Linked DNA regions of Homo sapiens. The protein of the gene in region 3 interacts with the protein of the main gene of each other region in a biochemical or structural test. Each region holds a gene or a part of one and is shown on either strand. Other genes may lie near its edges.

Region 1 (2,341 bases), on a different chromosome or scaffold from region 3:
TAAATGAGTGGCCTGTTCTGGGGCTGCCGCTCCTGTCCTGAGCATTACTATCTCTTCTGAGTTTTCTGTGATCAAGAAGCCCTCAATATTTCCTGCTTCAATTTCCCATATGAAATCAAGTGGTACCTGATTTTTAAAAAATTCAACCCAGAATTCAAGTTTTGGACTCCAATATGACAGGAGTGTTGTCACGGCTGCAGGCCATTGGTCCGTGGCCTGTGGGACCAAGCCTCTGGTTCTGATGCTCTGTCAGATAAGAAATTCCTTAGAATCCAGTAATTTAAATAACAATACAAGTCCTATAATAGTGCAATTTTGGCAAGAGCAAAGAATATCGATGGCCTTTTAAAGGTCAGGCAGTGAAAAAACCATTGGACAAAGTGTGGACTGTTGCTTTGACATAGTACTAGCACTATGATGTCTCCCAGAAGGAGGCTGGTCGTGTGTCCACCTCATCATCAGCGTTATCTTCTGATGACAACAGAGAAGGATACGGAGCGACACATTTTACGTTCACATAAGTAGCGTTCACATGGACATAGTGCTCCCCAATGAAAGTAGAGAAGATCGCTGATATCCGGGACACCAGTTCAGAAAAGGATGGGCGCATTTCGGCTTTAGGGTGCCAGCATTTTAGCATTACTTCATATCTGTTCCAAAAAGAAAGACATGCTGTAAGAGACCCTTTGAAGGCAGGCATTTCTGTAAAAGTAAAGAACGTAAGAGGTACAGAAAGACTACTTACAAGGGGTCTGGGCAGTATTCGGGTTGTAGGAGTCTTCTCCCTTGCAACAAGTAAACAGTTATATCAAAGGTGTTTACGTCAGGATAAGGTGGGGCTCCTCTTGTCATCAGCTCCCAGAGGAGCACGCCAAAGGACCACTAGTAAAACAAGAAACAGGACAGATGAGGTGAGAGATGTGACCATACATATATGAAAGGAAATCAGTAGGTCTTGGTAACTAAACTTGGCTTTACATACTCAATACGGTTTCTGTTTTGGGCAACAATTTTCTTAAAGGCAATTATTAAGCTATACATTTCATGACTTGTTTAAACAAGTAAGGTTTAGATTATAAGTAAATGTAAAGTTTTCTAAAAGAATATCTGAAGTCTACATGATGATGAAGATTCCATCTGTAGTTGGTAGAATATCTCTTCCAAAATTCTCTCCCGCTGTGTCAAAGCACTAACATGTTTCTATCCTTTTCTTTTCCAATAGCTTCACTACAATTTTACATTACTTGTAAAAGAAGAAGAAAGCCTCCCAAAATTTAAATTTGTGTGGTTTCAAACTGAACATAAATACTCTTTAAGAAATGTAACCACATTGAAAGGTTACTATTAAATGGGAAGGTCTAAATCAACATAAGTAAAAATACATATTAAAAATCAGAAATAAAAAAAACTGCAAGGCAACAAGTTTCTCTATTGAAAATTAATTTCAATAAAACTGTCACATGAAGATGTGAAAGTACTAGATTCATATAAAATAGCCGTATCAGTACTATATAGGAAGATCACAGGGACACGGAGAGGTTAAGTGACTTGCTAAAATTCCCCAATACATCTGAGTCCACACTGGGATAAACATTTAAGAGTTCCTGACCCTTAGGTCTTGTTTGGTCTACTGAACTTCAATAAACATGCAATTTCTTGATTTAAAACACTGTGCTCAGGATAGACCAGGTCATACATATTATCTCCCCCTGGACATGTGCCCATGCAAGAATGACACGAGGAGAGTCAGCATGGGCAGAGGCCGCCCCTGTGGACAGGACCCAGGGGGGCAGTTCTGGCCCAGCAACACTTCCAGGCCACTCTAAGAGTAGGAAGCATAAGGAGGAAGAAATGAAGGAAGCTTGGAGCAGAAGGAAAATCCACACCAGACAGCTGGAGTAGGAAGACATAAAACTGAGAGGCAAGTGTAGCTTGCAGTACCCAGCAAGAAGGAGAATAAAGCCTGCCTTTGAACGCTGCGACTGAAAGAAAGAAATGAGGTAGATGCTGTAATTGCTGATACAAATTACCATTAATGACTTCTTTGCCCAAGTGCAAGAACCCTTGATGGCTGCTGACTGCCTTGATCCCAACAGAAAACTCAAACCCCTTGCCAGGAGGGAGCTACAGAACTTTGCTGTCTAATTCAGCTTTGCAAAGTAGAAGTTTTCAAAGTCTGAAAATCTTAACAATCAACAATCACTTCTGACAACATCATCGTGTTAACTTTCAAGTCCCAGAATATGCATTAACATTTAAAATCAATTTAACAAGTATCAATTGACCCTTGATCACATACGAGTAGGTTACTGTTCAAGTTACTAGATAGGTCCCAGGGCTG
Region 2 (3,500 bases), on a different chromosome or scaffold from region 3:
GTGGTGTGCTATTAGGAAAGAAAAGATAGCTCCAAGCACACAGCCCAGGAAAGAAAGCAGCTTAAAAAAATCTGAGTCAAAGTATCACTAATTCTTGCTTAAAAAGAGAGGAAATAATGGATTTGAGTTTTCATTCCCCCACACTTCCCAAATCACTGGGAGGGATCTCCCAACTTCAAACAGCTCTTCATTCTATATGGCTTGTGGGCATGACAGCTATCTGCCATTTTCTGGCTATGCTTGTTTGATCAGAAGGCTTATTTCACTGCAGTAACAAGCTGTCTTTTCTATGCTTTTATTCTAGTTCACATCACCCCAACCCTCCAAAGGATGCATGGCCCTGACATGTGAGAGGGAGAAAATACTGACCCCGTGACCAGCATTTGAGATGAGGGAGGAAACATGGCAAATCCTTATGGAAACTTCTACTTCCAGTGAGTACAAAACTCTCCACCCTTCCCCCTCAATCTCACATCCTTCTTTGGCTCAGAACAGGAGGGCTGGGCAGAAAGAACTAGTTTCCATTGCTTTACTTCCCCTACCTGAAGCCCAATTTGCAACCTAAGATTAGGAGAGAAGGGGTTGGGAGGTTAGTCCTCACCCTGAAAGCCTGAGGAGGAGGACACACCTGGAACTGGGAGAAGGGGGATTCTATGCCTGGCCAGGGTATACTCACATGATTGGTGCTCTCTGAAATCTGCTTCTCAATTAGCTGAACAATTTGCTTGAATGTTGGTCTTTTTAGGGGATCTGCATCCCAGCAAGTCTTCATTATGTCATACCTGCAAGACAAGGGCCATTTACTATCCCTCCTCAATGCCCTCAGCTTGTTTTCAAATGTATGGGCATCCAGCAACTTCAGTAATAATTCCAGGGCTATGCAACTGGACATATGGACTGACATATAGATAACATAAAACACTGCATGTATGAAATATTACTGAAACTTTCTGTATTTTTGGTGACAAGAGATTATGAAAATAAACTACAGAAATGACATTTGACCAGTGTGTCATAAAGAATCCAAGTGACATTTCAAACTGTGTTATGAAAACCCTCAACATCTGGGTTTCTGTCTCTAAAAAGAAAAATAAAAGGGAAAACGTGACCTAAAGGAAAAATTTTTTGGCTCTTACATTTCAGCAGGTGCGTGTTCAGGGCTGAGCATCCGGAAGCCTTCCTTGATCATCTTGTAGAACTTAGAATCGACCGGCATTCCAGGATAGGGGCTGCTTCCTGAGACACAGTTTGCAAAGCAGTGTTAATCACAAGGAAGCAGGACACCAATGAAACTTCAAGAAGATGCTCTGAGTCTAATGAAGTTGTCTTTGGCAAGGATCATTTTACCTAAAGAGAACAGCTCCCAAAGAAAAATCCCATAGGACCAGACGTCACTTTCAAACGTGTATACACAGTTGAAAATGCTTTCAGGTGCCATCCACTTCACAGGTAGTCGAGCCTGTAATAGAAGCACAACAGAGTCAATAATGTTAATTCAGAAGCTCAACAAAATTGAACAGAAGATATTCTTATAGATGCTGCTGTTGCTGAAATGTGGAGTGATAACTTGAGTACCATCTCACAAAAACCTTTTACCTATATGAACTCAGATGATCCCAATCACCTCTGAAATACATGGCTCACAAGTGCATTATCCCCATTTTAAGATGTGAGCACTATGTCAGTACGGCATGGAGATTAAGAGCACAAACGTCAGAGACAGCCAGACATTTTAGCCCTGGCTCCACCATGGGCCTTAGGTAATGCAGAGATTTGTTAGTTTCCACTGAATATGTCCCTCTCCTTCCTTAAAAACAGAAACACGGCCTCTCACAATTAGGACTACATTTCCCAGCCTCCTTTGCAGCTAGCTAGCTGTAGTTAGGTGACTCGGTTTTGGCCACTAAGTTGTAAGTGCTGTATAGCAGCTTCAGGAAAACCTCCTTACAATATAGCTGGCACGTGCCCTCTGCCCTCTCTTCTCTAGTGCAAGGGCCCCCTGCCTTCTGGATATGATGGCTGGCTATCCACCTGGTGGTCATCTTGGACCATGGACATGGGGGTTACACTCAGGAATGGCTAAGCATGGAAAGGAAAGACTTGCCCGGGTACTCCATGGAACCTTTATACCAATCCTGGTATAAAGTCTACTCCTAGACTTCTTTTATTTTGGGTTTTCTGTCAAAACCCAAAACTTTCTCTAATACACTGGGAAAGTCACTAAAATATTTGTAATTAAGCCTCAGTATCTTCTTCTGTAAAACAAAATGAATACTTTTAATTTTATGAATTGTCTTGTGGGTTAAATAAGATAAAATGGGTAAAAATGCTTAGCACCGCCTGACTCAGTGCTATCTGAAAAATTGCCTAGAAGAAAGGCAAGTACTTGATAAACAGTAGTGGCTTGTGATCCTGACTCTTTGGAGAACTCTCTCCATTAAAGTTGAGCTAAACTTTCTGTAACTAGTCCTTTTAGATGCATTCTGGATTCCCAATCTTAATCTGCCATAAAAAGCTAAATCAATCCTTCTCTTAATCCATTTAGGATTGAAAACTGGGAAAGCTTTTTTTTTTTTTCTTTTTTTTTTTTGGTGTTAAAGTTATTTTAGTCAGCTTACAAAAACAAAACAAAAAACTTCCAATATCCCTTCCCTTCCTAGATGTTGTGCTAAAGTTCCTATAAGGGCTCCTAACCTGAGATCTATGGGTGTCAAATTCAGGGGCCTGTGAACTTGGAAAGGAAAAATGACATCCTTATTTTCGCTAATTTCTAGATGAAATTTAGCATTTCTTTAAATTACTAACAAAGGTGATAAAACGCAGTAGTATCAGCTGTACCTGTGACTTTGTCATGAACAGTAATCATAAATATCTTCATATCCTATTAAGTCTTTATAGGTATCTCAAAATCATATTTACATTAATCACCACTCTAAAATTACAGTGGTTTTTAGAAAAAATAGCAAAACCCACAATTACTTTTACACCAACCTAACAGAGCCTGTTACACTCTATAGTAAACACATGTACTGACATATCACAAATTTACTTAGTATCTTCATAGCTATTTCGATTTAACTGTTTTCCTTGGTATTCCTATGTATTTCATCATAGGCGTTGAAAACAGTGTTCTGATAAGGGTCCCATAGGCTTTACCAGGCTCTAAAAGGGGCCATGACATGAAAAACAATGAAGAACTCATGTGAAAGGAAAGAACTTCAGAGAACCTGACACAACAAGGAGATCTCAAATGATGATGACAAAAATGTGGGGCGGTAACATATATGAGTTTCCTTCTTCTTATCTTGTTCCAGAAATTCTCCTTACCCACTAGCCTGGTGAAAGCGAGATCTGTGATTGGTTAGTTCAACTGACTTGAACTGGAGTCTACAATCTGGAAGCCTGATAGAGCCAACCCCTCTTTGTCATTTCAAACTAAGGTCACTAACCAATAACAAGACAGTATGTAACCACCGTCACGATTATTTAGATCGTAAATA
Region 3 (3,500 bases):
TGGTCAAACTTCATGCGGTGGTCACCAAGGAGCCCATCTACATCATCACGGAGTTCATGGCCAAAGGTGCTGCGTGCTGGGGCTGGGGGTGCAGGCTGTGGCCTATACTGGTCAATTGCGGGCCCAAGGGTGGCTTGGACATGGTTCTTGCCCTTGAGATGGCCCCAATCTGGCCAGGAGCTCTTCCAACAAGTACTCATTGAGAATCTAATGTGGAACAATCCAGCCCTCCTGGTTAGTGGGGTGAAATCATGTTAAGGGGTCACCAAGGGGAAGGGAGAACAAGGGGCTACCAGGAGAAGGGAATGGGGCCAGAATACTCCTGGGCAATGGGAGAAGGGGCTTATGGTTCACAGTGAGCCTTAGAGGCCAGGGTGTGGCATGGGTGGTGGGGGTGCCACTCTCCCGCATCAGCCACCTTCCCTGTACTTGCCAAAGCCCTGGGAGAGGGAGCTGGCAAAGCAGCAGTTCTGCCCCCACCCCCGCCCTGCCACAACTCAGGATTTCTTGGGGAATTTTTTTAGGCCACTGTTTCACAACCATTTTCAACCCCTGCCATTTTTTGTTTGTTTGTTTTTTAGGGACAGGAACTTGCTCTGTTACTCAGGCTGGAGTGCAGAGGTGCAATCATAACTCCTGGGCTCAAGTGATCCTCCCACCCCAGCCCCCCGAGTGGCTGGGACCACAGGCCCATGCCACCACACTCAGCTAATTTTATTTATTTATTTACATATTTATTTTTAGAGACAGGGTTGCCCTCTGCCTACCCAGGCTGGAGTGCAGTGGCGTGATCATAGTTCACTGTAGCCTCAAACTCTCAGGCTCCAGGATCCTCCCGACTTAGTCTCCCCAGTAGCTGGCACTACAGGCATGCACTACCACACCCAGCTAATTTCTAAAAAAATTTTTTTTTTTTTTGAGACAGAGTCTCACTCTGTTTCCCAGGCTGGAGTGCAGTGGCACAATCTCGGCTCAATGCAAGCTCCACCTACCAGGTTCACGCCATTCTCCTGCCTCAGCCTCCCAAGTAGCTGGGACTACAGGTGCCTGCCACCATGCCTGGCCAATTTTTTTGTATTTTTAGTAGAGACGGTGTTTCACCGTGTTAGCCAGGATGGTCTCAATCTCCTGACCTTGTGATCCGCCCGCCTCAGCCTCCCACCATGCTGGAATTACAGGCGTGAGCAACTGCGCCCAGCTTCTAAAATTTTTTTCTAGAGACAAGGTCTCGCCATCTTGCCCCAGCTGGTCTCAAACTCCTGGGTTCAACTGATCCTCCCAAAGCTTTGGGATTATAGGCATGAACCACTGAGCCTGGCCTAACATATATATTTGTAAATTTCTTCTATAGATGGGGTCTTGCGATGTTGCCCAGGCTGGTCTCAAACTCTTGGCCTCAGGTGATCCTCTCACCTCGGTCTCCTAAAGTGTTGGAATTACAGGAGTGAGCCTCGTGCCTAGCCACTCTGCCCATTTTTTGATAAACAGAATCATCTCATGCAATCCCATTTAGTGCGATTTGAAACCTCAAGCCTTTTTCATTTTAACTATGCAATTATGCCAGTCCTGTGAAGGCATGATCCCAGCCATCCAGGCTCAGGGGCTGTCTCAGTCACAGAATCCATCTAGCAATCAAAAAGTCACTTCACTAAAACTCAATTCTCTTTCTCAAACACTAGGAATTGCAAACAAATATTCGTATTTAAATCTACTACTATGAAAAATCTTCACCACACACTAAAGTACTAGATTGGTGCAAAAGTAATTGTGGTTTTTGCCATTAAATAGTAAAAGTAGTAAATGTTCCTCCCCTCTCCCCCATATAGGAAGCTTGCTGGACTTTCTGAAAAGTGATGAGGGCAGCAAGCAGCCATTGCCAAAACTCATTGACTTCTCAGCCCAGGTGAGAGCCTAACGAGGAAACGGGGAAGGGAAACAGGAATTCGATTTTTTTACTTGCCAAATATTTACTGACCACATACTATGATGATAGCAGTAATAATAATGGGTAAAATGTATTGAGAGCTCAGTATAAAACTATGTTTTTTGCATATATTTTATTATACATGTACTCATTCATTTAATCATCCTATAAGCTTTATAGGCTGGGATTTTTGTTATCTATTTTGGTATAACAAACCATCCAAGTCCTAGTAGCTTGAAACAACAGCAATTGTTATTTCTCATGATCCTGTGGGTTGCCTGGGTTCAGCTGGGTGGTTCTTCTGCTCGTCATGGTAAAGTGAGGTGCAGATGTTGGCACTTGCCCAGGCTAGAATGTCCAAGACATGGCTCAGCCTCCAGGGTCTCTCCACATAGCCCCTCACCACCCAATCACCCAGCCTGAGCTTCTTCACGGCGCAGCAGCTGGGTTCCAAGACAGAGCTGGACCAGGGGCCAAGCCTTCATGAGCAGGCTCTCATTAAGCCTCTGCCTGCATCAGGCTTGCTAATGGCCCATTGGCCAAGTCACATAGCCATGCCCAGAATCAGTGTGGGAGGGGACTGACCAAGGACACAAATCCCAGGGACCCCCTCAATGTAACAGTCTGGCCACAGAGTAGGTAATTATCATCCCATTTTACAGAATAGGAAATTGAAGCATAGAGCAGAAGTAAAGTACAGATGTGGAAACTGAGCCCCAGTGTGGTTAAGTGGCTTGCACAAGTTACTGTGCTAATTATGGGGGATATAGCAGTGAACAAAATGAAAATGTTCCTGTCCTAATAGAGTTCACAATCCAGGTGGGAAGATGAGTATTAAATAACCAAATCTCTTAGAGACCATGACCCAAGTGGTCCTGGCTGAGTCAAAAGAGCACAGTATCTAACAAAGTAAATAATGTTCACAAATCGCAAAAACACTGCTGAAAACCTAATTTTCTTTCTCATGTTCCCCACGCCCCTTGCAGCTCCTCTCACCCCCAGCCTAAGCAGTTTTTTCACTTCTGTCCTCTCTCATGCTCTCTCTGATGTCTGGGAAAACAGAGTGTAAGGACGGGGTGGTATTAGAGTGCATAGCTAGAGCATTTAGCCTGGTCCAGGAGCAATCAGAGAATGCTTCCTGGAGGAAGTGGCCTCTAGGCCGAGCCTGAAGGATGAATAGAAGTTCAGTAGATGAAGAGAAAAGGTAAAGGTCTTTTAGACAAAAGAAACAGCCTGTGCAAAAGTAGGTGAAGGAGTTCAGCCTACTCAGCAGGAGCCCAGGGATAGTGGGAGTTGAGTGAGACCCTGCCTGGGCCTCAGCTGGGCCTGCTGGAGATGCCAAGGGCAGGGCTCATTTGAGTATGCAAATTCAGGGGCCCAGAGGACACCACAAAGTGTAACAAAAGACTCTACTTTCAGAGCCTGGAATGCCAGAGGCATATGGAAATGTGTTTTCACTCCTATGGGCCAGGTCCTCTGGGAGACAATAGACTGGTCTGTTGCTAAATTATCATCTTCAAACTAGCAGAAGCCCTGCTGGGCAGCAGTCACCGACCAGGGCAAGAGCCACTCTGCC
Region 4 (3,500 bases), on a different chromosome or scaffold from region 3:
AACTGAAGGCAGACCTGCATGCAGGGCCTTTGGCTGCTGTGCTCCTGGGCTGGGTGCTGTGTCTTGAGCCCCTGTGCAATGCCTGGCTCAGAGTAGGAGCTCAACAGATGCCTGTTGACTGAATAATAAACAGGTATCGCAGGAGCTTTTGTTATGTGCCATGTGTGGAATGCAAGGAAGGAAAGGCCCACTCTCTGCCCTTAAGGAGTTTCTAATCTGTTTGTGAAGACAAGCTGTCAGTCATTTTATAGGAGCTATGATATATGATTAGTTGCCAAATGAAAGTTTAGAGTGAGAACAGGGGATGCAGGGGTACGAGATGCCAGGGAAGACTCCGCAAATGAATTTTACACTTTGCTTTTAGAAGAGCTGGTGTACTGCTGGCAGCAACAGCAAAATCTTAAGGGAGGGCTGGTTTTAAAGGAAGAACAAAGATTTGTGTTGAGTTTAGATGTCCTCATGAAAAAAACTGCTTCCCAGCACCCCAGTTTCATGTGAGGAGTTTGGCTGTCAGCTGTATCTTCTAGTTTGAGAAGTTTTTGTTTCTGCTAAGATCTAATGTTCCTCATGGGTTCCTGAGCACAAGTGAATTTTCTGCATCAAACTAGAAATGAACAAAACAACTTGTTTGGTCACCTGAACTTATTAAAATTCCAAGGGACATGAGTTGTTTAAGATTTCTTTATGTCTGTTTTAAGCTAAGTAATTCATTCTGGCAAGCAGTTAGTTTACAACAGAGAGGGAGCATGTTCTGGTGGGAGGGAGAATAAAAGAGCCTTTGATTCATTTGCTTCTGAGTTCCAGCAGCAGGACCAGGGCTGCCTTGGGCTAGCGTCTTATTTCGGACTTTGGAAGCCATCTTAGCCCAGCTGTGTGAGTGCCAGCTCGTGTTGGGGGGGAGAGAATAACACCAACGGATCACATGAAACCCCCTCTCCCTGTGGATGGAGGGGTTTCTCTCATTTCACATTCCTCGCATCAACATGGCGCCTAATTTCCACCAAGTTAGAGCTCCATCTGAATTTGCCATTTGAACTTGGATTGAAGTCACGATCTTTCTGTGACTCCTTTTATCTCAGTCTGCCAACTAATACAGAAAACTTATCAAGTCACAGTTCTCTTTATTCTCCCCTCTTGGGGTATAACACACATAAAATTAGCATTCTTTCTTTTTTATATTACCCCTGGCAAAAAGTGGCCCATTGTACTGTGGATTTCCATATTTATTAAATAACTAGGCTCTTCCGTTGCCAGTGGGATGGCTATAGGAGCCTCAATAAATTGTAGATGACAATTTAGGCCTGTAGAATTGCTGAGAAAAGTCATTTTTAGGAACTGGAATTTTTTGCTCATTCTAGGCTTCTATGTTTGAGCATCTTAAATAATAGAAGAATGCCCTAACTGGAAAAAAGAATCATTTCTCTTTTAAGCAATTCACTTATTCATAGGAGCGAAGTTCTCCCTAGTTTAAAAGGTCGCATTACTGAATAAAGTACACTATAACCTAAGAGCTTTTGACCTTCTCCCAGCCCGTTTTTAAAAAGAATTAAGACTATGCACTGTAATGCATGTTTGGTTGTTATCTCTGTTACATTAGCTCTTGAAGCATTCTGATTACAACTTGTAGCTGCCAAGCCCTGTCCTGCAGTATTATCTGGAACAAAAATTTTCCATGTGGTTGTTTTTAGCAGAGCTACTATATGCAAACTGCACGTGAAGGATATAAGTTATAAAGGAATAGAGCTTCTAGAAGGAGAAATGTGAGTTAACTTTTTTCTACCATTTAATCATTCTTTCCTCACCTCTTAGTGTGTGTTTCAATAATGTTTATCATCTTTCTAAACTGAGTTTTCTTTTATTTTTATATATTAGAAAGAATGCCAAATTTACCAAGTGCTTTTCTGATGGTGGTTTTCTTTTCTCCCAGCTTTTTACTTTGAATTCATACTTGGCCTAGGTAGTTCTCTTAAGTTATGTGTTCAAAAAACAATGTCCTAAGAGGAAAAAACAAATGGCCACATTGTCTCATGAATTAAAAACAACATACCAAGAGTCCAAACATTTCAATGTAAAAATATTAAGCCTTTCTTTTTTTAGGAAGACAAATATTAAACTTTGCTTTAACTATCCTGTTGTTTTTCCTTTCCCTTTTTTATTTATTTTCTTTTGGTTTGACTCATGTAGTTTAAATTTATTTTGAAAACAGCTTTATACATACTTCTTTAAGAATACTGCACGTAGGGGAAAGCATCAAACTTCCATTTTACATTTCAAGAGAAAAGTGAGAGGAGGCCATCCTCCTGTCAGAAGAGGGGCAAAATGTCAAATAATACCAAGGTCTTCTAACTTACTTTTACATTGCTTGGTTATTTATCATTATTGCCTAGAGATATTTAGCTATTTAAACATGAAATAAGCAGGTAAATGTAATTTAAGTTAAGCAAGTTTCACATTTGCTTTTGTGAAACGAAATCCTGGACATAAGCATTGGAAGAACTCAACTCATTTTGTTGTAGTTTTTGTTTTAAATAGAAAATAGAGACAGGGTCTCTACATTCCCCAGGCTGGTCTTGAACTCCTGGCCCCAAGTGATCTCTTGCCTCGTTGTAGTTTTTATTGTTGTATTTAACTCATTAGCCAGCCAGTTGTTGTAACATTTTATTTGCTAACTTTTTAAATGAGAGGAAGGTAAAAGCACTCTGTGCCATAGTTCCCTACTCTCTCTTTTCCTATTCATTTCTGCTTCTCTGTGATATAAGCCTAGACATCAAAAATCACAAAATATTTGTGTCCCAATCTTTACACACACATTCTTTCACGAAACTTTTCTCTAAAAAGAGAGTGTTAATTTGTGTCACTCTTACTTAGTAATCAAGAATAGAAATAATAATGTTCCAACTAGCATGTAGATGTTTTTCTCTCCTGAAATGCAGCTTTTAGTTACTGCTGTATTGGGAAATGTGGTTAGGCCACTTTCTGACTGGCAGAACTCCTCCCTGAGATGACTACCTGATGAAAGAATTACCTGCCTGTGTGCCTTCCCAGTTCCAGTCCTTAGCACATTCCCATCACTGCTGTGGCCAGAGTTGGAGTTGCCAAGACTAAGGTGCTGGTGGAGGGATGACTCCTTGATTATCGAGAGAGAAGTGCTTTAATCTTTGACTTTTGTAAGAGAGATACTAGGTAAAAGCTACCTTCAGCGTTTTGAATTCCAGTGCTGTTGTGTAGAGCTTGATGAGGAACGATTACCTCATTCAGCTAGGGAGGTATTTTTTGAACCCTCTACCCTCTGGCAAAGTTATAATTGACCCCAAAGTTATGTAGGATTATTTACTTTACATGTTCTTGACAGTTTCAGGTTTAAATGTTTGAAGTGTTGAGAAAAGGTAAAAGGAAATATTGAACTCCTAATAATGTAAAATATTTGGGAAGGTACTTTGTTCCTAGTGATGCTGTTACATAAAACCAAAGCCTTCTGAGTAATCTTTGCTGGGTATGTA

What was found. The genes of interacting proteins can lie anywhere in the genome.
Region 1: the proteins of HCK (region 3) and MET form a complex in vitro, tested with the Homo sapiens proteins (one large-scale study listed by BioGRID and IntAct).
Region 2: the proteins of HCK (region 3) and KIT form a complex in vitro, tested with the Homo sapiens proteins (one large-scale study listed by BioGRID and IntAct).
Region 4: the proteins of HCK (region 3) and GAB1 form a complex in vitro, tested with the Homo sapiens proteins (one large-scale study listed by BioGRID and IntAct).

What each region holds. Positions count from the first base shown.
Region 1 is NC_000007.14:116,794,196-116,796,536, reverse strand, and holds part of MET (hepatocyte growth factor receptor isoform b preproprotein), read right to left. Parts: intron 883-2,341; coding exon 746-882; intron 651-745; coding exon 413-650; 3' UTR 1-412. UniProt on the Homo sapiens protein: Receptor tyrosine kinase that transduces signals from the extracellular matrix into the cytoplasm by binding to hepatocyte growth factor/HGF ligand. Regulates many physiological processes including proliferation, scattering, morphogenesis and survival.
Region 2 is NC_000004.12:54,734,457-54,737,956, reverse strand, and holds part of KIT (mast/stem cell growth factor receptor Kit isoform 1 precursor), read right to left. Parts: intron 1,460-3,500; coding exon 1,348-1,459; intron 1,237-1,347; coding exon 1,137-1,236; intron 783-1,136; coding exon 677-782; intron 1-676. UniProt on the Homo sapiens protein: Tyrosine-protein kinase that acts as a cell-surface receptor for the cytokine KITLG/SCF and plays an essential role in the regulation of cell survival and proliferation, hematopoiesis, stem cell maintenance, gametogenesis, mast cell development, migration and function, and in melanogenesis.
Region 3 is NC_000020.11:32,086,742-32,090,241, forward strand, and holds part of HCK (tyrosine-protein kinase HCK), read left to right. Parts: coding exon 1-66; intron 67-1,826; coding exon 1,827-1,903; intron 1,904-3,500. UniProt on the Homo sapiens protein: Non-receptor tyrosine-protein kinase found in hematopoietic cells that transmits signals from cell surface receptors and plays an important role in the regulation of innate immune responses, including neutrophil, monocyte, macrophage and mast cell functions, phagocytosis, cell survival and proliferation, cell adhesion and migration.
Region 4 is NC_000004.12:143,343,376-143,346,875, forward strand, and holds part of GAB1 (GRB2-associated-binding protein 1), read left to right. Parts: intron 1-84; exon of another isoform or gene 85-160; intron 161-1,680; exon of another isoform or gene 1,681-1,760; intron 1,761-3,500. UniProt on the Homo sapiens protein: Adapter protein that plays a role in intracellular signaling cascades triggered by activated receptor-type kinases. Plays a role in FGFR1 signaling. Probably involved in signaling by the epidermal growth factor receptor (EGFR) and the insulin receptor (INSR).